Homo sapiens: one gene and its partners. The protein of the gene in region 2 binds, or shares a complex with, the protein of the main gene of each other region. Each region holds a gene or a part of one and is shown on either strand. Other genes may lie near its edges. A codon is read from its position in the direction of its gene.

Region 1 (7,331 bases), on a different chromosome or scaffold from region 2:
TCAAGTTTTTCTTCATATGTCACCTTCAAAATGAGGGCTTCCTTAACCAAGTGGCTTTTAAAAAATTATTTTATTCCCAGGCTGGAGTGCTGTGGTCCCATCTCACTGCAACCTCCGCCTCCCAGCCTCAAGCGATCCTCCCACCTCAGCCTCCAGAGTAGCTGGGACTATAGGCACCATGACCGGCTAAGTTTGGTATTTTTGGAAGAGATGAGGTTTCGCTATGTTGCTCAGGCTGATCTAGAACTTGTGAACTCAAGTAATCCTCCCATCTCGGTCCCCAAAGTGCTGGGATTACAGGCGTGAACCACCACATCCAGCCCCAAGCTGTTTTAAAATTACAGCAATTGCACCCAATACTCCCCTCTTCCCATGCCTTATTTTTATCACCACCTCATGTTCGGTATAATCATCATTCACAGAGTAAGCACTCCATAAATGAGTGCTGTATAATATGTGGGAAGTAAATCCCATTTTTGGGGTTGAAAGGGAGGTTCTGAGAAGTGAAGGGATGGAAAGGGAAGTTTGCTGGCTGACAGCCTTAACTTTGCACTCCATCTTCTCCAGTTCCCCCAGGACAACCCTGAGAATCAGCTATGTGCCGGGCACGCTAGGCCCTGGGGTTACAACTTTGGGGCTTAACTGTTTTTCGTTTCATCTTTTAACTTTAATACCAAATCTTTGTTGTTCACACAGAACAATCTTTACAGAAATGAAAAAGCTTGGTGACCCTCAACCTCCATATCCACCTTTGTGTTTAGCCTGGCTTTCTGCTTCATCTAGGCCCCTTGAGTAACTGGCATTCACACACACACTTGCTTATATGTTTACTATTCATTACACACATTAAAAATTTTTTTTCCCATTGAAATAGTCATAGAGGTCTGTTAAATAGGCCTGTATATTTTCTTGCTTTCCTGGGTTAGACATCTTCAGACAGTTTTTCTTTTGGTAGCAAAAGCAAAATACTTCTTCCCCCTCCTAACTTTGCTGTATTTGTCATATACGGAAAGGAGTCGCGAGACATCATGAACCCCACATACAATGAAGTCCTTCTGGAATATTTTCAAATTATCCCCTTTTTCTGCCATTACTGTGGCCTAAACTACCTTGCTTAAATGGACAATGTCATCATTGAATCAAGAAAATACTGTGATCCACTGGCATCCCTTTTCACCTTAGCCTTCATATCATATTTATATTAAATGTCTGTTATATATATTTAGTATCATCCCACCTAGCTCTTTAATGGTTAGAGTCCAACCTACACACTCTTCCCAGTGGGAATGGCTGCTCTATAAAGTTCTTTGTACGTGTTTTTTTTTTTTCCTAACATTCACTTGGTGCCAATAATTATATTTTGTCCAATCACTTTTTTTTTTTTTTAAAGAGATAGGGTCTCACTCTGTTGCTCAGGCTGGAGCACAGTGATGTGATCATAGCTCACGGTAACCTTGGGATCCTGAGCTCAAGCAGACCCCTCACCTCAGCCTCAGGGGCAGGTGGGACCATAGGTACTTCTGTGCCACCACACTCAGTTATTTTTTAAATTTCTTGTAGAGATAGGGTCTTGCTATGTTGCCCAGGCTGGTCTCGGAGCTTCCCACCTCGACTTCTGAAAGTACTGGGGTTACAGGTGTGAACCACTAAGTCTGGCCTGGAATATCTTGATCCATCCATTCCTTGATTCTAAACGTCTAGCAATTTACATGACATTTCACACCATGTTGCAGAGTTATATACTGCTTTGATTTGCTTTATGGTAGTCTCTAATTTCGTTGATCTTCCTCTTAAAAATGCCTTGTTTTAATATTTAGTATTACAGGACTGATAAGTTCAGTAATTTGATAAGCAACTTAGGGATAAGTAGTTAATTTCTGAGGTTTAAATTGCTGGTTTTAAAAAATTGTAAATTGGTGGCCTAGACAGATGCATTTTATCTTGGAGAATGAATGTATTCGTGACTGGAAGTAATGGCAGCTATAATTCGTTACGTTATTTTACAGTCACATCTCAGCTGCATAACCTATTTACTTTTTGCAGTGTTATCACTGATTCACAAGACAATTTTGCTTTTATCTGGGCACATGATTGCTTGTTTCTCCTTATCTTTTAGCTTCCCTTTATATATACTTTCCAACATTGGAGTGATTCAGAATATATGTGAGGAATGGGATGGTGATTTAGGAAAGGCGGGAAAATTATGGGCTAAATCATCTGATGAAAAATTCTGGCCCAGCGCAGTGGCTCACGCCTGTAATCCCAGCACTTTGGGAGGCCGAGACGGGCGGATCACAAAGTCAGGAGATCGAGACCATCCTGGCTAACACGGTGAAACCCCGTCTCTACTAAAAACACAAAAAATTAGTCGGGTGTGGTGGCAGGCACCTGTGGTCCCCAGCTACTCGGGAGGCTGAGGCAGGAGAATGGTGTGAACCCGGGAGGCGGGGCTTGCAGTGAGCTGAGATGGTGCCACTGCACTCCAGCCTGGGCGACAGTGTGAGACTCCGTTTCTTAAAAAAAAAAAAAAAAAAAAAATTCTGGCTAGTTATTAAATTCATTAAAAATATTTCTTCAGATTTTTACCCCAACAGTTCATAGGTGACCTTTTTTCAGTTTCCAGTATGAACTCTCAATATGGAATCTCAGTTTACATGACAATGGTATTTTACCCCATAGATACATCCTAGTAAAAATAAATTCGGAATACTCTTAACTGCATTGCCACATGAAGCAATAGGAGAGACTGTATCCTAAGCAGAATCCCTCTAATTCCTCTGGGTTGAGGTAGCTTGACCCCCCATAACCAAGATCAATTTTTTTTTTTTTTTTGAGATGGAGTCTCGCTCTGTCGCCCAGGCTGGAGTGCAGTGGCGTGATCTCGGCTCACTGCAAGCTCCGCCTCCCGGGTTCACGCCATTCTCCTGCCTCAGCCTCCCGAGTAGCTGGGACTACAGGCGCCCGCCACCACGCCCGGCTAATTTTTTGTATTTTTAGTAGAGACGGGGTTTCACCGTTATTAGCCAGGATGGTCTCGATCTCCTGACCTTATGATCCGCCCGCCTCGGCCTCCCAAAGTGCTGGGATTACAGGCGTGAGCCACCGCGCCTTGCAAATATCCTCACACTTTGCAGAGGCGGCAAGTGAACAGTGCTCATCTTGATAAAGGATTTTTAACACTGACACGTGCTTAGAACTACGAACAGTGGAAGGGTCTGAAATGGCAGCAATGTCGCCCTTTCACAGGTTTCTAGGGCGATAAGCACTGCAAGCTCGGCCAGCCAAAGTCCAGCGGTGGGGGAAAAAACGGCCAAGGCAGCAGCAGACATAATCAAACAGGGCCCGGGTCGGCGGCGGTGGCTCACGCCTGTAATCCCAGCACTTTGGGAGGCCGAGGCGGGCGGATCACCAGAAGTCGGGAGTTCGAGACCAGCCTGACCAAGACCCGTCTCTACTAAAAATAGAAAATTAGCCGGGCGTGGTGGCGCATGCCTGTAATCCAGCTACTCGGGAGGCTGAGGCATGAGAATCGCTTGAACCCGGAAGGCGGAGGTTGCGGTGAGTCGAGATCGCGCCATTGCACTCCAGCCTGGACAACCAGAGCGAAACTCCGTCTCAGGAGAAAAAAAAAAAAGTAGTAACGGGTCCGGCGGCAGCGCGCGGGCCGGGCGAGCGTCTCCCGGCAAACGCGGCGCCACAGCTGAGCCGACCTCCGGGGCCCGCGCCCTCCCCTCCCCGGGCACCACTAGGAGCGGCCAGCCCGGGCCTCGGCTCCGCGCGCGGGGAAACGAGCGCGGCGGTTAAAACCGTTACCACCCCCGAGTTTTGAACTGGTTCAAACTTGGCTTCCAGCACCCGCCCCGCCCCTCCCCCGCCCGGGAACTCTGCGGCGCCGGTTCCCGCCAAGAGCCGCCGGCGCTTCGTCCCGCCCTTCGGCCGGTTCCCGCCACCTATCCTCCCCGCCTCCCGTCCGCGGCGGGCTCCGGGCCCCCGCGATGTCTCCCGGTCCCCGCGTGCCTGCACACCGCCTTCCTGAGAGGCGCCGTGTGTTCAGCGAAAGAACAAAGAGACGGCGGCGGCGCTTCCACACGGCCAGTGGCGTCCCTTACAGCGAACCCCGCCGCCGCCCGCGCGCGCACGCGCTGCCAGTGCCCGCCCGCCCACGAGCCCTGAGCGCACTCTGCGTGGGGCTGGCTCGGCGCCTCCGAGCCCGGCGGGCCCTGTGATTGGACGGGCGCCCGCCTCGCGTCCCGCCAATCGGGGCGGCGCTTGATTGGGCTGGGGGGGCCAAATAAAAGCGATGGCGATTGGGCTGCCGCGTTTGGCGCTCGGTCCGGTCGCGTCCGACACCCGGTGGGACTCAGAAGGCAGTGGAGCCCCGGCGGCGGCGGCGGCGGCGCGCGGGGGCGACGCGCGGGAACAACGCGAGTCGGCGCGCGGGACGAAGGTAACGCGCCGCTGCGGGCGGCCCGGCCGGCGGGGCTCCGGGAGTGCGAACCGGGCGGCGGCGGCGGCGCCAGGACCTCCCCGCCACTGCTGTGCCGGTCCCGGGTATCGCCGAGCGGGGCTCACCGGGGCGCCGCGTTTGTAGGCGTGCGGGGGGTGGAGGGTGAGGGGAGAGCCCCCCTCCCCGGAAGGAGCTGTGAGCTTCGGGCTGGCCCGCGGGACCCTGCGAGTGAGGCAGCGCACACCCCTGGAGCTGCGGGGCGGGGGGCGTGTGGGGGGCTCCTTTCCCGGTGCTTGTCCTGGCCGGGGCGCCGGGGCCGGGGTCGGGGCGTTCCGGTGCCCGGTCCAGGGTGGCAGCTCGAGCCTCAAGTCTCCTTTGTGTGGCGCGGCCGCGGCGGGAGCGCCCGGGTGGGACGGGACAGACACAAGTTGGTGGGACCCAGCCGCCGAGTCCGCACTCAGACAAAGGACGGACTGTGTCTCCGGAGGGCTCGGCGCGAGGGGAAGGGGCATGACACCCGGGCCCGCCGGCGGGCGGGAGAGGGGCGTGGGGAGGCGCGGGCCGCTGCCGGGGTGGGCAGGGCTCGGCCCTCGCCTCGCGCACGCCCCCGGTCCCGGGCGCGCCGACCCCGGGCTGGGGCCGCGGCGCTCGCGGGACGACGTTCGCGGCGGGGAACTCGGAGTAGCTTCGCCTCTGACGTTTCCCCACGACGCACCCCGAAATCCCCCTGAGCTCCGGCGGTCGCGGGCTGCCCTCGCCGCCTGGTCTGGCTTTATGCTAAGTTTGAGGGAAGAGTCGAGCTGCTCTGCTCTCTATTGATTGTGTTTCTGGAGGGCGTCCTGTTGAATTCCCACTTCATTGTGTACATCCCCTTCCGTTCCCCCCAAAAATCTGTGCCACAGGGTTACTTTTTGAAAGCGGGAGGAATCGAGAAGCACGATCTTTTGGAAAACTTGGTGAACGCCTAGTGAGTTGCCACTTTCTAAAGAATCGTAATCCTTAAACATTACAAGCTGTTTTGGCCAACTTGTGTGATACATCTGAGAATGGCGACAGGTGCTAACGAAATCAACTGTCATTCAGCCAGATTATTCCCCAAATCCCGACGGGTTGAATGAGGATGAGGTGGTAGAAGTAGGTGATCAAAATAGAATGGCTATGACAAATGTGTGTTTAGATTATACGGTTAGCAGTTTCTTATTAATTGGTCTCGTTTTCTGTGAACAATAGCTTTGGTGATTCAGAAAAGACTGCATGGAGAAATGTTTGTTGCCTAAGAAATTTAACGTGTGCTGTCCACAGTTAAACTTCCTTTATCACACAGGATCTGTAACATTTAAATTCATTTGGAAATAAAAATGTGTCTTTGCTATTTACTTAAAGGCTTGCTTTTTAGGGTTCAAGCAAGTTATTATTAGTTTAATTTTGTGGCGTTTTGATGTCATCATAAAACAGCATTTAATAAACCTTTGAAAAACACGAATGCTGTCACAATTGAATGTAGTTTATACTTTTAGGGGTTTTGGAGTTTATTTTCTATTACTCTTCATAAGCATTAGCAACTAATTCATGTTTAGGAATACTGTACAAGTGTGTAATCCTAACTTGTTTATTTGTAATTTTATTTGCAGGAAAACAAGTATTTAAGATATATTTTAATTTTCTATTCATGGTCTCTAAAGTTAGGAATAGGTAGGATTCTAGTCATAGATATAAAGCGTCTTGTTCTCTCTTTTCGGAGGTGTGTTGGGTGATGTAATATTTAAGGTTTCCCGGAAACAGGAACACTGCATCTTAAATTCTCGTTTTTGTGGAAAGTGAATATATTCCAAGAAAACAAGTTAGAAAAACATAGGCGTTCTTCTGGTTGCACTGTCCTATATGATAAAGATCTAATGTGCATCTGCTAACTTAAGGTTTCATAAAAATGGAGACAAATAAATGCAATATAAATTTATTACATATATTTTGGAGAGTGTTGACACCACTGTACGGGCATTCCAGGTGCTGGTCTAAGTGTTGAGACATTATAACAAAAAAGTAACGTTTATATTAGTTACTATTAATTCTGTATTTAAAAAATCCTATTAATAATCTTGTCCATTATGAGATAAGGTAGTTATGCAGATTTTTGGCAGAAATTCGGATATTTTAGGATACATATGTGTGTGTGTGTGTGTGTGTGTGTGTGCGCGCGCGTGTGTGTGTGTGTATATGTTTTTTTTTTTTTGAGACAGAGCCTTGCTCTGTCGTCCAGGCTGGAGTGCAGTGGCTGGATCTGGGCTCACTACAATCTCTGCCTCCCGGGTTTAAGGAATTCCCCTGCCTCAGCCTCCCGAGTAGCTGGAACTACAGGCACGCACCACGACACCCGGCTAATTTTTGTATTTTTAGCAGAGACAGGGTTTCACCATGTTGGCCAGGCTGGTCTCGAACTCCTGACCTGAAGTGATGTACCCGCCTCCGCCTCCCAAAATGCTGATCCAGACGTGAGCCACCACGCCCAGCCTAGGATAAAAATTTCTAACTTTGCCCTTGAGTGTTCTCTGTATTTGATAATTACTATTCTTTGTACTTGCCATGAGATATTTTGAAAAACATCTCTTTGGGGAATTGGTTTAAAAATTCATATTAAATTATTTTCTGGTACAATTGAGAATGTATTTAGTCAGTTTAAGTAGCAGTGACTTAAAACACACTTGTTGATCTAGTGTAGTTAGAAAAAGTTCTGATACTTTGATACCTAGCTTTGCCTTGCACAAATACATTTAAGTGAATATCTTTATGTTGGCCATTTAAAAATTTTAGGCAAATTTCTCCAAGTCATACTGGAATTTTCCCAGGATACCTTCCTTCTTTTGAGGTAGTGTGCTCAAGGATTCTG
Region 2 (7,721 bases):
TTAACCAATAATTCGTCTCCTGAAGTGATGTAGTAAATGGACACTAACTAAAAACAAAACTCTGACACATATCACTTGGTTTTTTTTTGAGACGGAGTCTCGCTCTGTCGCCCAGGCTGGAGTGCAGTGGCACCATCTCAGCTCACTGCAACCTCTGCCTCCCGGGTTCAAGCGATTCTCCTGCCTCAGCCTCCCGAGTAGCTGGGAACACAGGCGCGCGCCACCACTCTCGGGTAATTTTTGTATTTTTAATGTAGATAAGGTTTCACTATGTTGGCCAGGCTGATCTCAAACTCCCAACTCAGGTGATCCGCCCACCTCGGCCTCCCAAAGTCCTGGGGTTAACAGGCCTGAGCCACCGCGCCCGGCCTCAACTTATTTAAGGCGAATTATTTTAACTCTTCAGTGGAAATAATAGGGGACTTGAGAACCTTTGCTCATATCCAGCCCACCATTTCCATGCTGTATTTACTGTCCTGAGTAAGATACTCAACTTGCTTCTTCATCTGTTAAACAGAAGTCAAAATAATACCTATCTTGCACCATAGTTGTGGGAATGAAATGGAAGACATCTAATTTGTACAGTGGTAGGCAAGCATAATACGTGTATACTGAGTAAATGAAAAACGCTGATTTTATAAACTAATGTCAACTTTCAGATATGTAATGGTATCAGAGGAGCATAAAATGGTAAAAATAGCACATGCTTCATTGTGCAGTTTACATCAATTTTTAATTTTCTTGAAGACATTCTCCTTCCTACCCATGCCTACACAGTTCAACACAATTTTTCTAAGGTTTATACAGTCTACTTTACCCGAAGATATTTTCTTAACTAGACGTTAATGTCAAACAGAATCTAATGCCAGATTTTCAAAATATCCAGGACTCTGTATTACTTGTAGCATTAAATACTAAGGTGTTCGTTTTTAATCAATTAATCAGAATTCCTAGAACTTTAGAATATTAAACTCTTAAATGAAAATCACTATCGACCACTAAAATTTCCATTGCTATACTTTTCTGGAGAGCATGTTTAAAAAAAATGTGATTGTCAAAACATAGATGGTCAAAATAAACGCTAATACACTTTAGAAGTGGCATAATATGCATGTGATTCTCGTTTTTTTAAAAGTACATTAAAAACCAACTAACCCAAACAGATCAAAAGTAATGATAAGACAATTGAAACATACACTATCACACTTTTTAAATGTTCTGAAAAAATGCGCATTTTTGTCACTCTCCAGTTACTTCTAACAAGCTTTAGTAAGAAAAATAATACTCATTCCTTCCGAGACCTCTCCAATGCATGACTTTAAATATTATCATTTAAAATCATGACTCTCATGTTGAAACATTACTATAAAGCCGCAAACTACGTTGTACCTTCAAGACTGTATTTTGTTACGATTCCAACTCTCTGATTCCGCAAAGTTATCTTAAAAGGCCATCAATTCACTATTCTTTTCCACAACCATTTATACGTGTTTAAAACTTTTTCCCAGATATGCTCCCAAAACAAATAGAAAAGATTGTTAAAATCACGTTGGAGACCACATGACTGACTACAAATGAGGGATTTGGGAGGCAATGATTTAATATAAAAGAACAGTCCTTTTTTTGTTTAAGTAGAGAAAAGTGATAGCTGGGGTCTCTCCCATGGACAAGGAAGTTCTGTTAAATCCAGGCGAGACCAGCCATATTGGAAACACTTGTCAATTGTAGTTCTGACAAGTGTTCCCGAACACGGTTGGAAGAAGCTAACCTTGAGTACCGACGTGTGTACATCAAGGCCCTCTTCTGCTCCGCCAGAGGATCTGGGCCCGTTTGGGGACTGTTTCCGAGTTAGAGCCGTCCTGAGGTCCGTGAGGAGCGAAGCGCCGAGGGGAAAGAGGGCGGGGAAAGGAGAGTTGGGGGGGAACGGTTTGAGAGTTGGAAGCCGCGATGCGCTGCGAGAGGGGCGCGGCGGCGACGGCGAGAGATTTCCGAGTTGAGAGTCTGGGGGAGGGGCCGAGGATTCGGGGAGCAGGGGGATCGCGGCAAAACGTCGCCTTGGTCCCCCTCTGAGGGGCCCGGGAGTTCAAGAGGAGGAAGGGAAGGGGAAACGCTTCAGAGCACTGACCTGTCCTCCGAGTCCATGCGGCTCAGGGGTTCCCCATCCGACGACATCTCCAAGCTGCCCCGCCGGCCCCCGGAGGTCGCGCTGCTTCCGCCTCCCCCAGTCCCGTAGCCCTCGTCGCCGCCGCTGGAGACTACGCTGCTGCTACTGCTGCCGCCCCCGCCGCCGCCCTGGCTGCCCCGCGGTCCCTTGGGCTCCTCCAGGCCCTCCTTGCCGTCCCCATCCCCGCTGCTGCTGCTGGCGGCGCCGGGGCTCAACGAGCGGGTCTCGTCGCTGCTGCTCCCGCCGCTGCTGCCCACCAGGCTCTCGGCGCTACTCTCCTCCTCACCCCCGCCGCTGCTGCTGCTCTCATCTTCCTCCTCCTCGTCGTCCTCCTCCTCGTCTTCGTCCTCCCCGGCCTGGCTGGCGCTCTCGGGGCTCGGCTCCGACATCGTCTCTGCCTCGCCGCCCCCCACTCCTCCGCCGCCGCCTCCGCCGCCCCCACCGCTGCCGCCGTTCAGCAGCAGCGCCGCCACCGCCTCGGCCTCCGCCTCCTCTTCCTCCTCCTCCTCTTCCTCCTCCTCCTCGGGGGGCTCAGCCCGGCCCCGCGCCGCCGAACCCGGGCTGCCGGGGGGCAGAGGGCTCAGGCGGGAGAGCTCCTCCAGGTCGGCCATGTCGGTGATAGCGGCGGCCATGGCGGCGCCTGCTCCTCCTCCTCCTCCTCCTCCCCACCGCCGCCTCCCTCTCTCGACTCTCTCTCCCTCGCCCCCCTCCCAAACGCCCAAAACTCCGCCGACGCCGCTGCAGAGCAGGAGGAGGGCCCGCGAGCTGCGTCAGCCTGCACACGCGCTACGGAGCCCGCGCGGGGACAGGCGCGCGACTACGCGCACTCACACGGAGACTGCTGCGCGCCTGCGCGGCGGCACGAGGCAGCACCTCCCCCGGCTGCGGGTTCTGCGCCCCCGCCCCCGCCCGGCGCCCGCCCCGCTGCCCAGTGCCCGCCCCCGCCCCCGCCCCGGCGCCTGCAAGTGCTCAGCGTTTCCTCGGGGCCTTCCCACGCCCTGCCGGGCTTCGAAGCCCAGGGACACGCGGACTGAAAACTCCAACGCTGGCCGGGGATTTTAGCAGCCTTCCGAGTTCTCACGATAAACTCATTCATTCCGGGGGTGTTTGAGGAGTGTCCCCTCTGTACAGGAGCTGAGCCAGGAATAGAACGAGCCTACAGTCTACGAAGAGAGCGGTTTAAAATGGGCAAAAATTAAAACACTACGGTGTAAGGTACTAAATTTTTATGCGCAACACAGGGCGACAGGTTTTAATACACCCTATGTTTGAATACCCCTGGAGATGTTGACATCCTGAACCCAGAGCAAACATCTTGGTTCAGGGTCCTCAAACTTTTTACTTCATGAGCCTTCTAAAACAATTTCGTAAAGCTGTGTATGTTCTTATACAGTTTAGAATGACAGCTACATTTTTCCGGCTTATAAATATTTCATCTGTCGCATTGTTTAAATACTGTATAGCCAATGGATTCTAAATACCATAGGGATTTAACACCCACTAATATCCATTTTTTTAAAATACAGTTTGGAAAATACAATTTCCAAATATTGTTTTCTGGAACTCATATTGACGTTGCATATCTCCTCTAGAATTTTATCCTAGTAATATATTTTATATTTGAACTATTTTGATCGTCTTACTTGTAATAAAAATGTGAACATAAATTGAAGTATCTGGGTTGTTTTTTATATTTTCTGTGATCATAAAGCTCTTATTTCAACCGATCAAAACAAATCTATTTCAAATGTTTGTAAGTACTAAACACAAAAGCAAAATTTTATTGGCAATGCATCTTGCAGAAATGAACTTGGGTGGACTTTTTTCTAATATACATTATGACCTTCAGTGGATGGATTTTTTTGAGAAATAGTTCAGCATCAGTTCTATTCCAAGTTTTCAATTCCATGGATATAAGTGTTGAGAAAACTTGTTCGCATAAAAAAAGCAGATGAGAATGAATGGAGTTTTGTTATAGTAATGCCACACAATTCTTTGAATGCCTTTCGCATTATATGCCCAAAAATCGCATAAAGATCTAACAAAGAAAAAATACTTTTAATGATCTGTCAGCTGACAACTCTGATTAGGTTCTCTTTCAACTTGTTGAAAGCAAGCAACTGAAAACCACCTGACTTGTGAAAGGATGTGTTACCCCATTCTTATTCACCAGTCAATTGTGCCTTTCTTTGGTGTCCTGGAGGTTTTTGCATAACCGGGTATTGCACCTTACTAAGATTTAGCATGAGGAAGAATTATGCCTTTCTTTTGTAAAGTAGGGAAGAGGTCATTGGAAGAAAGGAGACTGGAAAAGAGCCCACATTACACCCTGACCCAAGGACACATTTTCAGGCCAATTTTAGGGATGCTTCTACTCAAGGAAAATGAGGATAGAACTGACTGCCTGAAAACAGAGCCTCCATGCTCATTTCCCATTTGGGAAAGTCGTCATATACCGTGAGTACCCAGTATTACATCCTCTGCCTTAGGCCTTTGGACAACTGTTATATAAAATGTTGCCTCTAAGGGAATGCAAAAATAATAACATGGGACATCATTTACAGATACCTTCAGAGGCACATACAATGTAAGGTATTAACTTCCAACATTTTAAACCTCAAAGGCAATCTTAGATAAGGAATGTATTAAAGTGAAATACACTGTAAACTGTAAATTAAAAACTATCAGAAGGCCGGCAGGGTGGCTTATACCTGTAATCCCAGCACTTTGGGAGGCCAAAGTAGGAGGCTCACTTGAGCCCAGGAGTTTGAGACCAGCCTGGGTAAAATAGCGAGACCCTGTCTCTACGGCACACCTGTAGTCCCAGCTACTCAGGAGGCTGAAGTGGGAGGTTCACTTGAGCCCTGGAGGTTGAGGCTGCAGTGAGCCATGATCATGCCACTGCACTCCATACCTTTCCTCACCCATCATAAGGGTCATGGCCAACACTTCTACAACAAAAGACAGGTTAACAAGAGAAAAGTGTAACAAATTAATTTAATGGAAGTCTTATGTGACACAGGAGCCTTCAGAAGTAAAGACCCAGAGAAAGCTGTCCATTTGTATGCCTAGATTCAACAGAGTGGACATCCATGTAGAAATGTGATTGTACAAAAAGAGAATGAACTAATAGTAATAGACTGAGTGTGGAAACCCAGCAAGGCCTGTCCAGATTCGTCTTGACCTCTCTGTGTAGCATTCCTTCCACACCCAGGTATAGAGCAGACTTCTCTGGAATGAGAGTCTTCAAATGAGAAGGCAGAGAGTGACCTTTCTTCGTTTCATGGCTTACTTTGTGGGGAAAGGAGTTCTGGTTTATATGACTAGCCTAGGGTGAGTAACAGGGATAGGAGACAGCAGGACAGAGGTTCAGTGAGAGACTTTGCTTCTCAGGCTTTCCAATCTCCTTTAGTTCAAAGTACTCAGCATGGGGGCCAGGTGCAGTGGCTCACTCTTGTAATCCCAGCACTTTGGGAAACTGAAGCAGGGGGATCACTTGAGCCCAGGAGTTCGAGACCAGCCTGAGCAATGGGATGAAACTCCATCGCTACAAAACACTTTTTTTTGTTGTTAACTAGCCAGGTGTGGTGGTGTGCACCTGTAGTCCCAGCTACTTGGGAGGCTGAGGTGGGAGGACAGCTTGAGCCAGGAGATTGAGGCTGCAGTGAACTGTGAGTGATCAAGAGCCATTGCACTCCAGTTTGGGCAATAGAGTAAGACCTTATCCCCCCCCCAAAAAAAAAAGAAAAAAGAAAAGAAAACAAAAGAAAACACAAAGTGTTACCAGAAAGGGGCCCCGATCCCGACCCCAGGAGAGGGTTCTTGGACCTCACACAAGAAAGAATTTGGGGTAAGTCCATACAGTAAAGTGAAAGCAAGTTTATTAAGAAAGTAAAGGAATAAAAGAATGGCTACTCCATAGACAGAGCAGCACTGAGGGCTTCTGGCTGGCCACTTTTATGGTCATCTCCTGATTATACGCTAAACAAGGGGTAGATTATTCATGAGTTTTCCAGGAAAAGGGTGGGCAGTTCCTGGAAATGAGGGTTTCTCCATTTTTTAGACGATAGGGTAACTTCCCGACATTGGCATGGCATTTGTAAACTGTCAAGGCACTGGTGGGAGTTGTCTCTTAGCATGCTAATGTATTATAATTAGCACATAATGAGTAGCTACGATGACCAGAGGTCACTTACATCGCATCTTGGTTTTTGTGTGTTTTGGTCAGCTTCTTTACCACATCCTTTTACCAGCAAGGAGTTTGTGACCTGTATCTTGTGCTGACCTGCTATCTTATCCTAACTTAGAATGCCTAACCTCCTGGGAATGCAGCCCAGTAGGTTTCAGCCTTATTTTACCCATCCCGTATTCACGATGCGAGTCGCTGTGGTTCGAACACCTCTGACAAAAGTACTCAGCATGCCAAAGCACCATACTTTGGGGTATCATTTTCTGAGCCCCAACAAATGTATGTGCCAGACACTGTGTTAAGCCCTGGAGATTATGGTTCATGTTTGGCCGAGTTAATCAAGGAAAGCTTCATGAAAAATGTAGGATTTCGACAAAGTGTATAGTAAGACATACAATAACTATATCTGGTTTCATTAATTTGAGCTGGATTTTGAAGAGCGAACAGAATTCTGTGTTGGGGAACTCAAACTGAGAAGCAATATACGGAAAAGCATCAACATTTATTCATGACAAGGTTAATTAACCATAAGAAATCATGGCAAGAAAGCTAAAAATAGTTAAATATTAGATTGAAGAAGGACATGAATAAAAAGTTGATGTTGGGGACCAGTCACAGTGGCTCATGCCTGTAATCCAGCACTGTGGAGAGCTGAGACAGACAAATCACTTGAGGTTACGAGTTCAAGGCCAGCCTGGCCAACAAGGTGAAACCCTATCTCTACAAAAAATAAAAAAATTAGCCAGGCACAGGAGAATCACTTGAACCCGGGAGGTGGAGGTTGCAGTGAGCCGAAATTGCGCCACTGCACTCCAGCCTGGGTGACGGAGCATGACACCGTCTCAAGAAAAAAAAAAAAAAATTAGCCAGTCATGGTGGCACACAGCTATGGGAGGCTGAGGTGGGAGGATCACCTGAGCCTAGGGAGGTCCAGGCTTTCAGTAAGCCAAGCACCACTGCACTTCAGCCTGGGTGACAGAGTGAGACTTTGTCTCAAAAAAAAAAAAAAAGTTCTGACAGGTATGTACTAAGATATTTTAATAAAGGTATGATATGATTAGATTATATTGTACATCTGTAGAATCTAATATATAGGAGATAGGATGAAAAGTGTGAAAAGTTCCAGTGAAGGATTTATTAAGGGAAAAAAAAAGTGTCAAAAGTGAATGGAGATTAGACACATGGAAATGGCAAGTATCAAAGCCACAAACGAATATTTTAGCTGTGGTATTTATACTTGAAGACTAAAATGAACTGTCTCGGAATTGGCATTTTGCAGAAAATTGTGTTTCCCATCACTGGAGAGTTTCCCTGTCTTCCTCTTGGTTTAGTTGCAGACATCACTGCTCTGCATGCATCTCCTTAGAA
Region 3 (7,500 bases), on a different chromosome or scaffold from region 2:
TGACTTCTTATCTTAGAAGCCATAAAAAAAAGGGTTGGCCGGGAGTGGTGGCTCATGCCTGTAACCCCAGCACTTTGGGAGGCTCAGGTGGGCGGATCACTTGAGGTCAGGAGTTCAAGACCATCCTGGCCAGCATGGTGAAACCCTGTCTCTACTAAAAAAAAAACACAAAAATTAGCCGGGTGTGGTGGTGGGCACCTGTAATCCCAGCCATACGGAAGGCTGAGGCAAGAGAATCACTTGAACCCAGGAGGCGGAGGTTGCTGTGAGCTGAGATGGTGCCACTGCACTCCAGCCTGGGAGACAGAGCAAGATACTGTCTCAAAAAAAAAAAAAAAAAAAAAAAAAAAAAAAATGCCAGGCGTGGTGGCTTACGCCTGTAATCCCAGCACTTCGGAGGCCGAGGCGGGCGGATCACCTGAGATTGGAAGTTCGAGATTGGAAGTTCGAGACCACCCTGACCAACATGGAGAAACCCCATCTCTACTAAAAATACAAAATTAGCCAGGCACGGTGGTGCATACCTGTAATCCCAGCTACTCTGTCTCAAAAAAAAAAAAAAAAAAAAATTAGCCAGGTGTGGTGGTGCATGTCTGTAGTCCCAGCTACTCAGGAGGCTGAGGCAGAAGAATTACTTGAACCTGGGGGGCAGAGGTTGCAGTGACTGGAGATCATGCCACTGTACTCCAACCTGGATGACAAAGCGAGACTCTGTCTCAAAAAAAAAAAAAAAAGAAAAGAAAGAAAGGGTCAATGCAGGGGGTCCCCAACCCCCTGGCCAGTACCAGTTGGTGGCCTGTTAGGAACCAGGCAGCACAGCAGGACATGAGCTCACAAAGCTTCTTCTATATTTACAACAGCTCCCCATTGCTAACATTACTGCCTGAGCTCCACTTCCTTTCAGATCAGGCACAGCATTAGATTCTCATAGGAGCTTGAACACTATTGTGAACTGCACATTGAGGGATCTAGGCTGTGTGCTCCTTATGAGAATCTAAAGCCTGATGATCTGTCATCCCCAGATGGGACCATCTAGTTACAAGAAAACAAGTTCAGGGCTCCCACTGATTCTATATTACAGTGAGTTGTATAATTATTTCATTATATATTACAACGTAATAATAATAGAAATAAAATGCACAATAAATGTAATGCGCTTGAATCATCCTGAAACCATCCTCCCCTACAACCCCCGTTGGTGGAAAAACTGACTTCCGTGAAACCAGTCCCTAGTGCCAAAAAGGTTGGGGACCGCTGGTTAATGAACTGCATTGCATAAAAACACTTTCTGCCTAGTAAGAAAAACCAACAACCCAAGACAAAAAAAAAATAACCCAAGAGAAAAAAGGGCTAAGAATATTAACATACACACCCCAGAATGGGAAATACAAATAGCTTCCAAAACAGTATAATATGTTCAACTTCACTTACAATAAGAAAAATACAGTAAGTATACTTTACAAATTAGAAAAGATAAAAAAGTATGGTAACAATTAGTAGAAGTGGGAGGAAAGAGGCACATTCACACAATACTAGTGAAAGTATAAATTGGTACAACTCCTATAGAGAGCAATTTGGCAATAACTGTCCAAGTTAAAATATCCTTTTAAAAAATGTAGGAGTCTTAGCAATGGAAACAAAAAAAACTTGGAGAACTTGATTCTACAGATTCACTTGCACATGTACAAAACAGTGGATGTACAAGTGTATTCACTGCTGCACTGTTTCTAATACCACAAGAGTAGAAATAGCCTAAACGTCCATCAACTGAAAATTGGTTAAAGCAAATGCTAGAACATCTAGGTATGTACATGTAAGAAAAAGGTAACGATGACTGCTCTACAGAGGGGGACTAGGTAGTTGAGGATGGGGGCTGCCAGAGTTACTTTTCACTGCCTATGTTACACTTTCTGAATTTCAAATCAATATATATGACCTATTAAAAATAATTTTTTTTTGAGATGGAGTCTGGCTCTGTCGCCCAGGCTGGAGTGCAGTGGTGCAATCTCGGCTCACTGCAACCTCCGCCTCCCAGGTTCAAGCGATTCTCCTGCCTCAGCCGCCCAAGCAGCTGGGATTACAGGCACCCACCACCATGCCTAGCTAATTTTTGTATTTTTAGTAGAGATGGGGTTTCACCATGTTGGCCAGGCCAGGCTGATCTCAAGCTCCTGACCTCAGGTGATCCACCCGCCTCAACCTCCCAAAGTGCTGGGATTACAGGCGTGAGCCACAGCACCAGGCCTTTTTTTTTTTTTTTTTTTTTTTGAGACAGTCTCACTCTGTTGCCCAGGCTGGAGTGCAGTGGTGTGATCTCGGCTCACTGCAGCCTCCACCCTCCTGGGTTCAAGCAATTCTCCTGCCTCAGCCTCCCGAGTAGCTGGGATTACAGGCGCCCACCATCATGCGCAGCTAATTTTTGTATTTTTAGTAGAGACGGGGTTTCACCATGTTGGCCAGGCTGGTCTGGAACTCCTGACCTCAGGTGATCCACCCACGTCAGTCTCGCAAAGTGCTGGGATTATAAGTGTGAGCCACCGCAAACGGCCTATAATATTTTAAAATTGTTTTTAAGTGAGAGAAGGGGATATGCTAGGAGGTATGCCAGCTCCAGAAAGCACATTGCCTAGAATACTATGGTAAATAAGTAGATTTTACAGAGAGGACAATGAGAAATTAATGAAAGATTTTAAGCAGATAAATAAAAGTCAGATTTGTGCTCCCCAAACCACAGCTACCTTTAGGGATGACAGCTTAACGTTTAATATAGAATTTAAGAGACAAAGATAGGTTATGTGATTTGCCTAAAGTCACTAAGCGAATAAATGGCAAAACCAGCTGGGCACTGCAGCGCGGGCTATGATCGCTCCATTGCACTCCAGCCTGGACGACAGAGCGAGACCCCATCTCTAAAAACACACACACACACACACACACACACACACACACATTTTTTTTTTTTTTTGAGACAGAGTTTCGCTCGTTGCCCAGGCTGGAGTGCAATGGGGCGATCTCGGCTCACCGCAACCTCCGCCTCCCGGGTTCAAGCGATTCTCCTGCCTCAGTCTCCCGAGTAGCTGGGATTACAGACATGCTCCACCACGCCCAGCTAATTTTGTATTTTTAGTAGAGACGGGGTTTTTCCATGTTGGTCAGGCTGATCTCGAACTTCCGACCTCAGGTGATCCGCCCGCCTCGGCCTCCCAAAGTGCTGGGATCACAGGCCTCAGCCACCGAGCCCGGCCTAAAATAATCATTTTTAAAAATCACAATCATAAATGGCAAAACCAGGTTTTTTGCTAATATGATCGAGGTGAAACATCAAGTTAGAAATCCCCTAATTAGCTTTCCGAGTCCTCTAACCTCGCACACTCTAATCTCACCGTTGGGAAATACATGGGGGTAACAACCCTGCAAACGCCTGAAAATATGGTTATCTTTAGAATTTACGAAGATAAATGTGATTAGGCACATGTGGAAGAAGTTCAAGAGACTGTAAATGAGGGAGGCCAGGTTTCGCGACTATTAAACCAGGTGGCTTTTTCCTTCAGCATCCCCAGGAGAAGTACGAACGCGACTACAACAGCCGGCACAAATGGGATCATGCCTGAAGTACCCATGGGGCACAGTAGAAAGAGCAGCAGGAAGCCGCGGGTAAGGAGAGGGGATGCCTGTGTGCTTACATGTAAAGAGAGAAGTAAGCCACCTACTCACACTCGTACTTCCTATTGACTGGCGGATACTTGGCCTTGATCGCCTTCTGTTCTTCAGTCAAATTGTAATCTCTAACATCTTCCTCTTCCTGCGCCATGACTGCAGGATTAGACACTCTACTTCCGCCCTTCATCCACCGGACTTCGGCCCGGAGTTACTACTTCCGCTCTAGACTCCGCCCCTTGGCGCACACCCTTAAAGGACCACACTCCTTTCTCGGAGTTGGCTGTTGACCTACTTTAGTCCCTACCCTGCCGCTTGGATCGCATATTTAAAAAGCCAAAACCCCATCTTCTGCGATTCCTTCATTACTAGTTCTTTCCAAAGACTAAGGAAAAACGTTGAAGGGCACCTTGAATGAAACCCGTCTGGGTCTGACTGGCGAGGTTCTTTCCCCCGCTTCACCCCCAAAATTGATAACTAGACCCGAAGGCATTCTAGATTTTTCATCTCAGTACTCTGAAAGGGTCGTAAGCTTAATAGCCTTCAAGAAAATGGCTGCCCTCTTGCCGCGGGAGTGTGCGGACCAAACCTCTCTCACGTGACCCTGACCGGGCGCAGTCCCGTCAACGCCGGCGCGCGCAATCGCTGGAAGTCGGCTCGGGGAGGCGTGGGGGGAGGGGCGGAGCGCGCGCCTCGGTCCCCGCGGAAAGCTACTCCGCGCGTCTGGATTGGTCGCGAACGCGGCTTCCCCGCCCATCCCGCCATTAGGAGCGCTCCCATTGGCTGATGTTGGCGCGAAGGTGCGCGAGTCAGCCCTCGCGCTGGGGGCGCAGGAAACAATAGAGGCCGCGCGCACAGAGCGAGCTCTTGCAGCCTCCCCGCCCCTCCCGCAACGCTCGACCCCAGGATTCCCCCGGCTCGCCTGCCCGCCATGGCCGACAAGGAAGGTGAGGGTGCCGGGGCCGACCCAGGAGGGCAGTGGGTGCCTGGGCTGAGCCGCGGCCTCGACATGGCCTAACAGTGAGGGCAGGCCCGAGTTTGCCGAGTGCAGTCCCCGGTACTGAAGGCGTGAAGAGGGAACTCCCCGCGGGGCGTGCTAACGGCTCGCCAGTTCCCTGGGACCGATTTCGGTCGCAGCTGGCGAAGCCAGCGGTGGGGCCCCCGGCCAGTGTTTGTTTCTCTTCCTGCCTCCGATATCGGTTTCTCGGCCTCTGTCCCGAGCGTGGGGACACCGCTTCCTACCCACAAGGCTCGGAGCTCGGGCCTCCTCGTCGGGCTTGTGAGTTTCGGCGCGCACGAGCGTGCTCCGAAGGCCTGGCTGGCCCCTTGGCCTGGAACGGGTAACGGAGTGTTTGGCGGGGATGGCCCGAGGAGTTTCGGCGCCGCGAAAGTGGAGAGTGTGGATGCCTCTGCCGTGGGGATTTAGACAAATCACCTCCATTTCATGGTTAGGCTGTAGGAGTCATGCAGGTGGCTTTGCAGAGGATTACTCGGTTTCCGTTTGTTTGCTAACTTAAATTTGTTTTTAAAAATTTTAGCAGCCTTCGACGACGCAGTGGAAGAACGAGTGATCAACGAGGAATACAAAATATGGAAAAAGAACACCCCTTTTCTTTATGATTTGGTGATGACCCATGCTCTGGAGTGGCCCAGCCTAACTGCCCAGTGGCTTCCAGATGTAACCAGGTGACATGACTCTCCCGAACGTTATTTTGATGTATTTTCAGTGTAGATTTCTCATATTGATTTTCTTTTTTCCGCTCTTCAGTCACCCGGAGAAGGCATGTGATCAAAACCTCTTGGTGACATTTTTTCTAGGCCACAAAGTAAGGCAAAATAACAAAATGATTTTGTAACTTACCTGACAAGAGAAAACATATTGGCGTTTTTTTCTCAATACTGAATTAAATAGCTGTAGCTGATGATAATACCTGTAATAATAGTGGCTGTACCAAATAATAGTACAAAACTTGTCAACTTTCAAAAAGTATTATGGCCAGGAGCAGTGGCTCACACTTGGAATCCGAGCACTTTGGGAGGCCCAGGCAGGAGACTTACTTGAGGCCAGGAGTTGGAGACCAGCCCTGGGAATACCCTCGTCTCTACTGCCCCCCACACAAAAAAAGAAAAAAGTATTACAATGAGTCTAGTCCTTACAACAAAAATTTTTTGTTTTTCTTTTTGAGACGGTGTCTCACTCTGTTGTCCAGGCTGGAGTGCAGTGGCGCGAGCTCGACTCACTGCAACCTCTGCCTCCCAGATTCGAGCGATTCTCCTGCCTAAGCCCTCCCAAGTAGCTGGGATTACAGGCACCTGCCACCACGCCTGGCTAAATTTTTTTGTATTTTTAGTAGAGACGGGGTTTTACCATGTGGGACAGGCTGGTCTCCAACCCCCTGACCTCTGGTGATCCGCCCGCCTCTGCCTCCCAAAGTGCCGGGATTACAGGCGTGAGCCACTGCACCTGGCCTCAACAAAACTTAATTTGAATTCTCGTAGTATGTCATGGTACCTGCCTTCAAGGAGCACATTGTCTAGTTGAAGTGGCAGATATAAACTAATAATTATAGTTATATATGGTGACAGCAGTTGTAGAGAGATAATTAGGGTACCTAGAAAACACCTGAAGGTGGAATGGCTTTCTTATAAGGGGTTTGGGCATAGTGAGGGCTAAAAGATTAATCCTATGTTTCTTACGTGTAGGTAGCTTATCTCTAGTAGAGGGGATAAAATAGCTTGCATTTATTGGGGCTGTATTTGGTGCTACATATCGGGGATCCAAATTAGTTATAATTAGCATAAAAGTGGTACAGATAAAATTATCAGAGGAAGGAAAATTTGCCTCAATTTGCCTCATTTCTTAGGAAGAAATGACAATGCAAAAAACAAAGAGGAGGGTAAATTTAGATGATATTAACATAGTTTTAACAAGACCATTGTGCCATTTGGAATAATGGATTTTCTGGTACAAAAGTAAGTTTTCTGAATTACATTCAAAAGCGATTGTATGCTAAGTAAATTCCTTCAAAACTTGGATCTTTAAAAGTTAAGATAATTGCAAAATGTTATTAGACTATGATGTAGCTCAACAAATGATAGAAATTTGGCAGAAATTATACTAGTAACTTAAGAATGAGGCTGCTACCTTTACAGTGGCATAAGGAAAAATAGGGAAATGTGTCCTAGGGATGTTACACAAAACCATAGTAAAAACCTAGAAATTGGGAGTTAGAAGCTGCTTTGTGTGTTTTTTGTTTTCTGGTTTTTTTTTTTTTTTTTTTTTTGTTTTTGTTTTTTTTTTTGAGACGGAGTCTCCTCTCTTGCCCAGGCTGGAGTGCAGTCACGTGATCTCCGCTGACTGCAAGCTCCGCCTCCCGGGTTCACGCCATTTTCCTGCCTCAGCTTCCCAAGTAGCTGGGACTACAGGTGCCGGCCACTACCCCTGGCTAATTTTTTGTATTTTTAGTAGAGCCGGGGTTTCACCGTGTTAGCCAGGATGGTCTCAATCTCCTGACCTCATGATCCACCCGCCTCGGCCTTCCAAAGTGCTGGGATTACAGGCGTGAGCCACCGCGCCCGGCCTAGAAGCTTCTTTATCATGACCAGGAGTTCCCACATGCAATTGATCATCAGAATTGCTTGGGGAATTCAGGATAATTGGAATCATTTCTGTCAAGAGTTTTCAGTGGTAATTCAAACCATTTAGGAACTTATGGGCTGGTCATGGTGGCTCACACGTGTAATCCCAGCACTTTGGGAGGCTGAGGCAGGCAGATTGCTTGAGGCCAGGAGTTCCAGACCAGCCTGGGCAACATGGTGAAAAGCCCGTCTCTACTAAAATTA
Region 4 (6,898 bases), on a different chromosome or scaffold from region 2:
CAGGGTCTTTCTCTGTCACCCAGGTTGGAGTGTAATGGTGCAATGTCAGCTCACTGCAACCTCAGCCTCCCGCTCAAGCCATCCTCCCACCTAAGCCTCCCAAGTAACTGGGACTACAGGTGCACACTACCATGCCTGGGCCACCACGTCCAGCTAATTTTTTTTTTTTTTTTGGTAGAGATAGGGTTTCACCATGTTACCCAGGCTGGTCTCAAACTCCAGAGCTCAAGTGATCCTTTTGCCTCGGCCTTCCAAAGTGCTGGGATTACAGATGTGAGTCACCACATTCGGCCTCAGAATAAAATTTTAAAGCTCAAAAATTATTGCCAAAATAGGAAGGGCAATGAGAATCCAGGAATGAGTAGGCCAAGCAGCGAGGCTGGATTGGAAATGGGCCTGAATTTGGGGCCTTGAAGAACGTATAACACTACATTGGATTTAGATAATGCAAGAGGAAAACTAGCAGAGTTCCAGAATGGAATGGAAGATGATGGTAGGAGACTAAATGTTGGGCAATAGTCTAAATAGTTGGGCATTATAGTTTTGGTGAAATATTCAACAGTAAGCATTTACTGGACATCTTTCAAATTTGATGAAGTTTTTGGAGCTTTGGAGGGTATGAGAAGTAGACAACATCATCTCTTTAGGGAATTTCCTTTTTACTTGGAGAGAAGAACTAGAAACATTAAAAGTGGAGAATGTAAACAAATAGGATGCAATGCAAAGGGGTGAAATATGCACTTCTTTAAGTATGTATGTGAACCCCTACACCTACTTCAAAACTCCTTAACACCTAGTCATCTCAGCAATGTGTTCTTTTTAGCTTCTTTTCTACATTGCTGATATAGTACTTTTTGGAGGTATCACAATCCATTGTAAACTCTGCCTTTTTTTTTTTTTTTTTTTTACTGAGCTGTGAGCTTCCTGTGTCCTCAGGGATGAGGACAGTGCTGGCATAGAGTCTAATACAATCAATGTACCTAGACATGTTCTCATCCCTGCCCCTCCAATTGAAGAGGTCAAGGCTTTGAGATGTGAAAATCATCATAAGAAAAGCTGCATTTGACTTACAGAAAATGAAAAAGAGGAGGAAGGAGCAAGAAAAGCCTTGGATGGTCTTGCCAAGATGGTAGGGGAAGGAAGTTCATTAGGAGTAGGTTACTTTCACAACAGGAAAATCTTTCAACCACTAAGAAGGCCAACCTTTTTTCTCTTTCAGGGAAAACAACACTAATATTATTCAAATCTTTTGGAAATGAGCAAATTCCTTCCTTTCCCCTCTGCCCTGAGGCCTCAACTTTACACAATAGTTTTTCACACCAGGTGACCTGGAGCTGGTAGCCTGGCAGGGGAGTTCGCAAGCCCAGGACTGAGAAGTCCAGGCCCCAGGGCTAGTTAGGGGAACAGAAAAGAAACTCACCTTTGTTCATTAATATTTGCCTAGGGAATGAGGTATCTGCGTTAAACTTACAGAAAGCTGGTTAAAATCTTAACAACGTGGAGACGTGGAGATTCCCAGTATGCCAGTCCTAATGATCAGAAAGTTTTTAGAAAACACCTTGGGTGGCCCTACTGTAGTCTGCCCCATTGGATCCTTCCCAGGAAATGGCACCAGCGTACAAGTTTTGCAGTATTCAGGGCACAAAAGATCATTTATTTTTCCAATTGTGAAGTGAACATTAGATAAAATTATTTCATTTCAGATTTTTTGAAAAGGTAAAAATAATAAGGAAAATACCCTCTCGAAAAGGCTTTTTATTTCGTTTACTGAAAGCTTCCAATAACGTGCCTAGTTTTAAACTAGGTTACTGTTATTTATCACATAATCATCCCCACAGGTTTGATCACCACTAATTTGCAGATGCGGAAACTGACAAGCTCAGAGAGGCTCTCGGTTGCCTTTTGGGAAGTGGCCAAGGCGCGATTTGAATCCAGGTCTCTTACCTCCAGTTTCTGAGACCTTTCTAGACACCAAGGTTATCTCTTCAAATACTGCTGCAAGTAAACAGCTGTGTGAGTATCTAGACTTTTGAAGTTAGCAGACTCTAGGGAATAGGTAGAATAAAATATATGGGTATGTGTTCGCGGGAGCGCTTCTGCCACGTTTTATTCCGAGGCTAGCCTGAGAGATCATGGAAAACATTGCTTCTCCAAAACCACAGCGAAAAACAAGGAAATTAACAAGGCAGAATCGCGATGCGAGACTTGACAAAGTTGTTAATAAGGCGAAGGCCCAAAGCGCTATGCCAGGGCCTGCTACTTCATTTGTTTCAGCGATTAAACCAGCACGACAGGGGGCTGGAGGCAGGTAAAAAGCAGGCTCTTGCGTGGCCCGGACAGTTGATATTCCTGGCACTCGGTGTTCGAGATGTTTCCTTACAATTGCGTGTCTGTGCGGCTCGGTCTCCATATTCCACTCATTTTTGTCTCAACATTTTGTGGTATTTTATCACAAAATACGCCCGGCAAAGCAAAGATCCCGTTCAGTCTCTTTAAACACGGCTATCTTTTCTCAGGAGGCAGCCGCCGGGGCTTCACTCCTGGGCCACCAGCGACGTCCTCCAAGCGGGTCGAGCGGAGGCGCGTTCGCGACCCAGGGGCAGCGTGCCGAGCCCGGGCGTGGGGGGGCGTGGCCTTTCCACTCGGCGACCCCCGGCCACCGCCCACCCCGCGCGTGGGGGCGTGCGCGACTGCGGGGCGCGGAGAGGGGTGACCTCGGACTACCCTAGGCGCCCGCAGCACGCTCTGTACACAGACGCGAGGCGCTGTCCTGAGGTGACACCGGCTGCACGGCACAAGCAGCAGGCGCCGCCGATCAACTAGTTCGCACCGAGGATTCCTCTTGGTGCGTGGCCCAGTTTTCCTTAGGACGGGCTCCAACCCCTCCCTGACACCGCCCCCCTCACCGCCACGCTCCGAGGCCTTCCCCGGGGAAGCCTCGCGTCCCTCCCCCGCGGCTCCGGGCCGCACGCGCGCGATTCCTCGATTCCACAGGCGGTTCGCGCCGCGGGTGGGGGCGGGGCGCGCGGGGAGGGGGCTGGCGGCCGCCAGGGGAGGGGGGCCGGGGCCCGGGGGGCGGAGGAGGGCCGGCGTGGGGAGTTCCTCGCTCGCGGACCACACGCTCCGCGGGCCAATCCCGAGCCAGCCTCTAGCAGTGTCGCACGCGGGACACGTCCAAGCGTTTGTTGGCACGGCCAGTGAGGGGGAGGGGGCGAGGAGGAGGGAGGGGAGTTGAGTGACAGGCTTTGCGGGGCAGGCTGGGAATTGTAGTTCCCAGCTTCCGTGGCCATAGCCATTTTGTAGTCGGGGGACTACAACTTCCAGAAGATCAAGGGGACCATTCTAAGGTGCCCCGGGAATAGGCGGCTCTCCCCGGGGCCGGGCGTCCTGGGGCACTCCTACCCAGCAGCCCGGCTGCAGGTAGACGCGAAGGCAGTGGCGGGGGCTGGCGTGGGGCGGCCGTGGGGTGAGCGGCAGGCAGGGGAAAGGGGGTGAGGTGGAGCGACGGAGCGTGCCATGCATTGAGCTAGGGAGCCTCTCTCAATTCCACGCCTGGGCTCGGCGTGGGAGCGACGCCCGAGGGCTTGCCTGGGAGGGGTTCGTCGAGGTCGCTCGGGTGTCTGGTTGGCCAGGCTGCGGGGGTGCCCTGGACTGGGCCAGGGGCGGTCGGCACCAGGCTAAGCGGGCGCCTGGCGGCTGAGCGGTGGGAGTTTTCGGCTGGCGCCCGGCGGGGAATTATCCGAGGAGCCCTAACTTGTATAAAAGCAGAGTCCATTTAAAGTTGGGCTGGATAGCCTCTCTCTCATTGGTTAGGGGGCTTGGAAAAAAGAGACTCGGCGAGCCCTCGCTGTGGTGCTGCCGCCGCCGCCGCCGCCGCCGCTGGAGTTGACTCTTCTGCTCGCACTGCTGCTGCAGCACAAACGTGACTTCCAACATTTTTTATTTATCTTTCCCTTTTCTTTTCCAAGATGTAACTACGGATCAGACACTAAGGACCTTCACGTTTCGCTGATGTAGTTTTTGGAGGAAAAAGGGGGGGGAGTGAAGGGCGTCGGTTTTTTTTTGTGTGTGTGTGTATGTGTTTCGGGGGAAATTTTCCATTATGAGTGTTTTACTAAAGTGAATTTTTTTTTGTTTGCTTCGTTCGTCTTTGGCTCTTTTTTTTTCCTTCCCAATTTCGGATTTATTTCAAGGCGAATCTGGCTTTGGGGGAAGAGGAAGAAAAGTCGGATTACAAGATCAACCACCACCAACAACAATAAAAACCACCAGGATATTTTTTTGCAAATTTCTGACGGCTTTAAATTCATGAAGCAATTGTCCCCTTTTGCAATCAGCATTTGGATCTCAGAATGAGCAAGGAAAGACCCAAGAGGAATATCATTCAGAAGAAATACGTAAGTGCTCCTAACAACACATCCTTTGACTTGCAGTTTTAAGCAATGGCTGTGAATGTCAAGTTTATAGATAATTCTGCCTCTGAAGGGTTTTAAACACAGCGTCCGATAAGGCTGTTTCTTTTTTTTCTGAAAGAGGGCTTTTCAAGCAAAGTGGTGTCTGCCTAGTTTGGTTGAAAAAACAGACTGGTGTAGAGATACCTCAAGTGAATAAATTGACCTCGAATGACACAACCATAATCTACTTTTAGATGAAAGGCAAGGGATTTTGGTGGAGCTTGAGGTGGGGGGTGGCTGCGGTAATGTAACTAAACTGCATTCTCAAGCGGATTTGGCCCCGTATTGCACTTTGCATGCAAATGAGCCTGTGTTATTATTATTAATGTTATTTGGAAAAATCGTGTAACGCATGTGTGTTGGAAGCCCTTTAAGTTGCGATCGAGGGTCCGATTATGGCGATCTTCTCTTTGCACTGGCACATCAAATTTAATGTCTGTGGTCGTTTTGGCTTATCTGGTTTGCAACATAAACCAGTTGGGAATCATGTTACAGCGAATGCATTTGTTGGGATTGACTTTAATAATGAGGCTGGTTTTGTTTAAAAAATTCATGGTTTCCAGTTGTAGGGGAAAAGGACACACACTATGGCTAATGTTTTTAAGTGTGTACGTGAATGCATATGTAAGTAACTACAAATAATTTCTCCCTGTTAACTGGGCTTCTGAAATTGGGTGATTATTCCTAGATTTAAATGGCTTGGAATAGTTAAATTTGTTTTGTGCATAGTACAGCTACGTTTTGATTGGCATGGGGAGTGTTTTTGTTTTGTGTGTGGTGGCTTTTTTTTTTTTTTAAGTTTGAGGGGAGGGAGGAAAGGGGGACCGAGGGATTAACCAAATATGCACTCGAGTGATCTGTGATTAGCTGCATGCTTTAAATTAAATAACTCTTTTTTTTTTTCAAAAAAGGCCAAATGAACATACCTTAGGAATAATGCAACGTAAGAGGAAAGTTTATTTAAGTTGGGTAGACAAATTGGTGTTAATATTTTCCCTTTTTGATCATTGTGGTGTGTGTAATGAGAGATGACCTTCGGGGCACTGGTTTTGTAAAAAAATATATTTAATGGAAAAGCTGAATGCCTCTTCAAGAGAGCTGATCCTTATCTAGACACGTCAACTTCAACTATGAAAGAAATGCAAGGTTAAATAATCAAGCCCAACTTAGAAAGCTGTTCCATAAAGAATTTAAGAATTAAAATACATCCGCATTGCAGAGGGCTGGGTAGAATGCAAAGGACTAGTTTAAACTCGGGCTGTAGAAACTGCACTGAGGCAACCTTGTCTTGGAGCGTGGACGCCTTCCCGGGGCACGTCCGTTTCGGATGCAGCCACAAAGCAAATGGGGTAGAACTTGGACGAGAACCGCACCCCGCCTCCCATTCCGGACCTCGTTGAGGTGGAGAGCAGCGTGGGGTGGGTTTTCTTTCTTATTGCGGGCGTTCAGCGGATCGTGTCTCCGAGTCCGGGCGTCCGGCTGCAAGCCCGTGGCTGGCGGCGGCTGCGGGAGGCACGGCACGAGTTAATGCACCGGGAGCAGAGCCGGTGTTCCCGACGTCCTCGAGCCGGCTGCGAAAGGGACGGCCCGCGGGGGTCGCGGCAGGCTGGGCCGGGGCTGGGCGGGCGGGCGCGCGCGCGCGGCCTATAGGGGGCATACTCCGGGCTCTAGGCGGGCGCGCGAGGCGGGCACCGGTCTACCCGGGCCGGCTTGCAGGCGGGCAGGAGGGCGGGTGGGGCGCGGGGGTGGCGCGGCCTGCGGGGCGCGGGGAGGGGAGAGCGCGCGGGGAGGGGGTGGGAGCGGGGGCGGGGGCGTGGGCGTGCCGGGGAGGGGGCGCGCGGCGCACAGCTGCAGCGGGCGCCCCCCACCGCGCACACGGCCGAGCATGGCGGCGGCGGCCCGGCCGGCTTCCCGCGGCCCTGCCTGCGGGCTCCGACGCAGTCTCGAGAGCAACAGGTTAAGCCGGCGAGACGTCAGCGCGCCCCCTCTCCGCCCCCCGGTTCTTCCCCCGCCGCGCGCCGGCGCCCCAGCCCTTCTTCCCTCCCTCCGCCCCCCGCGGCGCTCGGTTCCCCGACGCTCCCGGCCGCACTCTGTTGTCATTGTGACGTCACAAAGGGACGGGCTCGGGTGGAACCTTCCCCTCCTCCTCCGTGACGTCAAAAGTCGGGCGGGAGGCTCCAGGCGCGGCGGGGCGGCGGGGGGAGGAGGGAGCTGGGCGGGGGCGGGGGCTGCCGCAGAGCCGGGCTGCGGCGTGGGAGGAGGAAGAGGAGGAAGATGCGCTCGGCCTCTGCCTTCCGCTCCGGAGCGTCGCGCTTCCCACCAGGTGAGGGCCGGGGAGCCGTAGGTCCCCAAAGGAGTGCCACTGGACCCTGTTCTGATGCCACTTGGGAAGCGGGGAGCGGGGAGGAGGCGCCTCCTTTCTGCAGGAATGTTTTCACTTCCTC

Evidence for each region.
Region 1: the proteins of AEBP2 (region 2) and EZH2 are in contact, whole or in part, in a cryo-EM structure (PDB 8VMI), measured with the Homo sapiens proteins. Residues at the interface, in NP_001107648.1 of Homo sapiens: Lys382, Leu383, Lys384, Asn385, Arg387, Arg388, Ser390, Leu391, Pro392, His395, Asp399, Ala400, Gln401, Asp404, Ala405, Arg407, His408, Ile411, Cys412, Leu415; in NP_001190176.1 of Homo sapiens: Ser76, Leu77, Arg78, Gly79, Thr80, Thr100, Asn102, Ala103, Val104, Ala105, Ser619, Asp620, Val621, Ala622, Ile739, Glu742, Met743, Glu744, Ile745, Pro746.
Region 3: the proteins of AEBP2 (region 2) and RBBP4 are in contact, whole or in part, in a cryo-EM structure (PDB 8VMI), measured with the Homo sapiens proteins. Residues at the interface, in NP_001107648.1 of Homo sapiens: Asn378, Lys379, Phe397, Phe398, Asp399, Thr402, Ala405, Ile406, Arg409, His476, Ser478, Pro490, Asn491, Ile492, Tyr493, Arg494, Thr495, Met496, Pro497, Arg500, Lys502, Arg503; in NP_005601.1 of Homo sapiens: Ala6 (codon at 4,604), Phe8 (codon at 5,201), Asp9 (codon at 5,204), Asp10 (codon at 5,207), Val12 (codon at 5,213), Glu13 (codon at 5,216), Glu14 (codon at 5,219), Arg15 (codon at 5,222), Val16 (codon at 5,225), Ile17 (codon at 5,228), Asn18 (codon at 5,231), Leu45 (codon at 5,312), His71, Gly106, Gly107, Phe108, Gly109, Glu126, Asn128, Arg129, Glu179, Tyr181, Glu231, Asn277, Lys317, Asp318, Phe321, Thr338, Asp339, Arg340.
Region 4: the proteins of AEBP2 (region 2) and JARID2 are in contact, whole or in part, in a cryo-EM structure (PDB 8VNZ), measured with the Homo sapiens proteins. Residues at the interface, in NP_001107648.1 of Homo sapiens: Arg407, Ala410, Ile411, Asn414, Leu415, Glu420, Ser421; in NP_004964.2 of Homo sapiens: Ser148, Lys151, Pro152, Lys153, Thr154, Glu155, Asp156, Leu158, Thr159.

What each region holds. Positions count from the first base shown.
Region 1 is NC_000007.14:148,881,280-148,888,610, reverse strand, and holds the start of EZH2 (histone-lysine N-methyltransferase EZH2), read left to right. Parts: upstream 1-4,319; 5' UTR 4,320-4,447; exon of another isoform or gene 4,448-4,675; intron 4,676-5,125; exon of another isoform or gene 5,126-5,414; intron 5,415-7,331. UniProt on the Homo sapiens protein: Polycomb group (PcG) protein. Catalytic subunit of the PRC2/EED-EZH2 complex, which methylates 'Lys-9' (H3K9me) and 'Lys-27' (H3K27me) of histone H3, leading to transcriptional repression of the affected target gene.
Region 2 is NC_000012.12:19,434,775-19,442,495, reverse strand, and holds the start of AEBP2 (zinc finger protein AEBP2), read right to left. Parts: upstream 3,005-7,721; 5' UTR 2,797-3,004; coding exon 2,126-2,796; intron 1,898-2,125; exon of another isoform or gene 1,792-1,897; coding exon of another isoform or gene 1,769-1,791; intron 1-1,768. UniProt on the Homo sapiens protein: Acts as an accessory subunit for the core Polycomb repressive complex 2 (PRC2), which mediates histone H3K27 (H3K27me3) trimethylation on chromatin leading to transcriptional repression of the affected target gene.
Region 3 is NC_000001.11:32,646,719-32,654,218, forward strand, and holds the start of RBBP4 (histone-binding protein RBBP4), read left to right. Parts: upstream 1-4,489; 5' UTR 4,490-4,588; coding exon 4,589-4,604; intron 4,605-4,637; exon of another isoform or gene 4,638-4,714; intron 4,715-5,195; coding exon 5,196-5,343; intron 5,344-7,500. Other genes in the region: ZBTB8OS (protein archease), read right to left, coding at 3,715-3,847. UniProt on the Homo sapiens protein: Core histone-binding subunit that may target chromatin assembly factors, chromatin remodeling factors and histone deacetylases to their histone substrates in a manner that is regulated by nucleosomal DNA.
Region 4 is NC_000006.12:15,242,188-15,249,085, forward strand, and holds the start of JARID2 (protein Jumonji), read left to right. Parts: upstream 1-3,881; 5' UTR 3,882-4,352; coding exon 4,353-4,397; intron 4,398-5,627; exon of another isoform or gene 5,628-5,957; intron 5,958-6,322; exon of another isoform or gene 6,323-6,509; intron 6,510-6,667; exon of another isoform or gene 6,668-6,777; intron 6,778-6,898.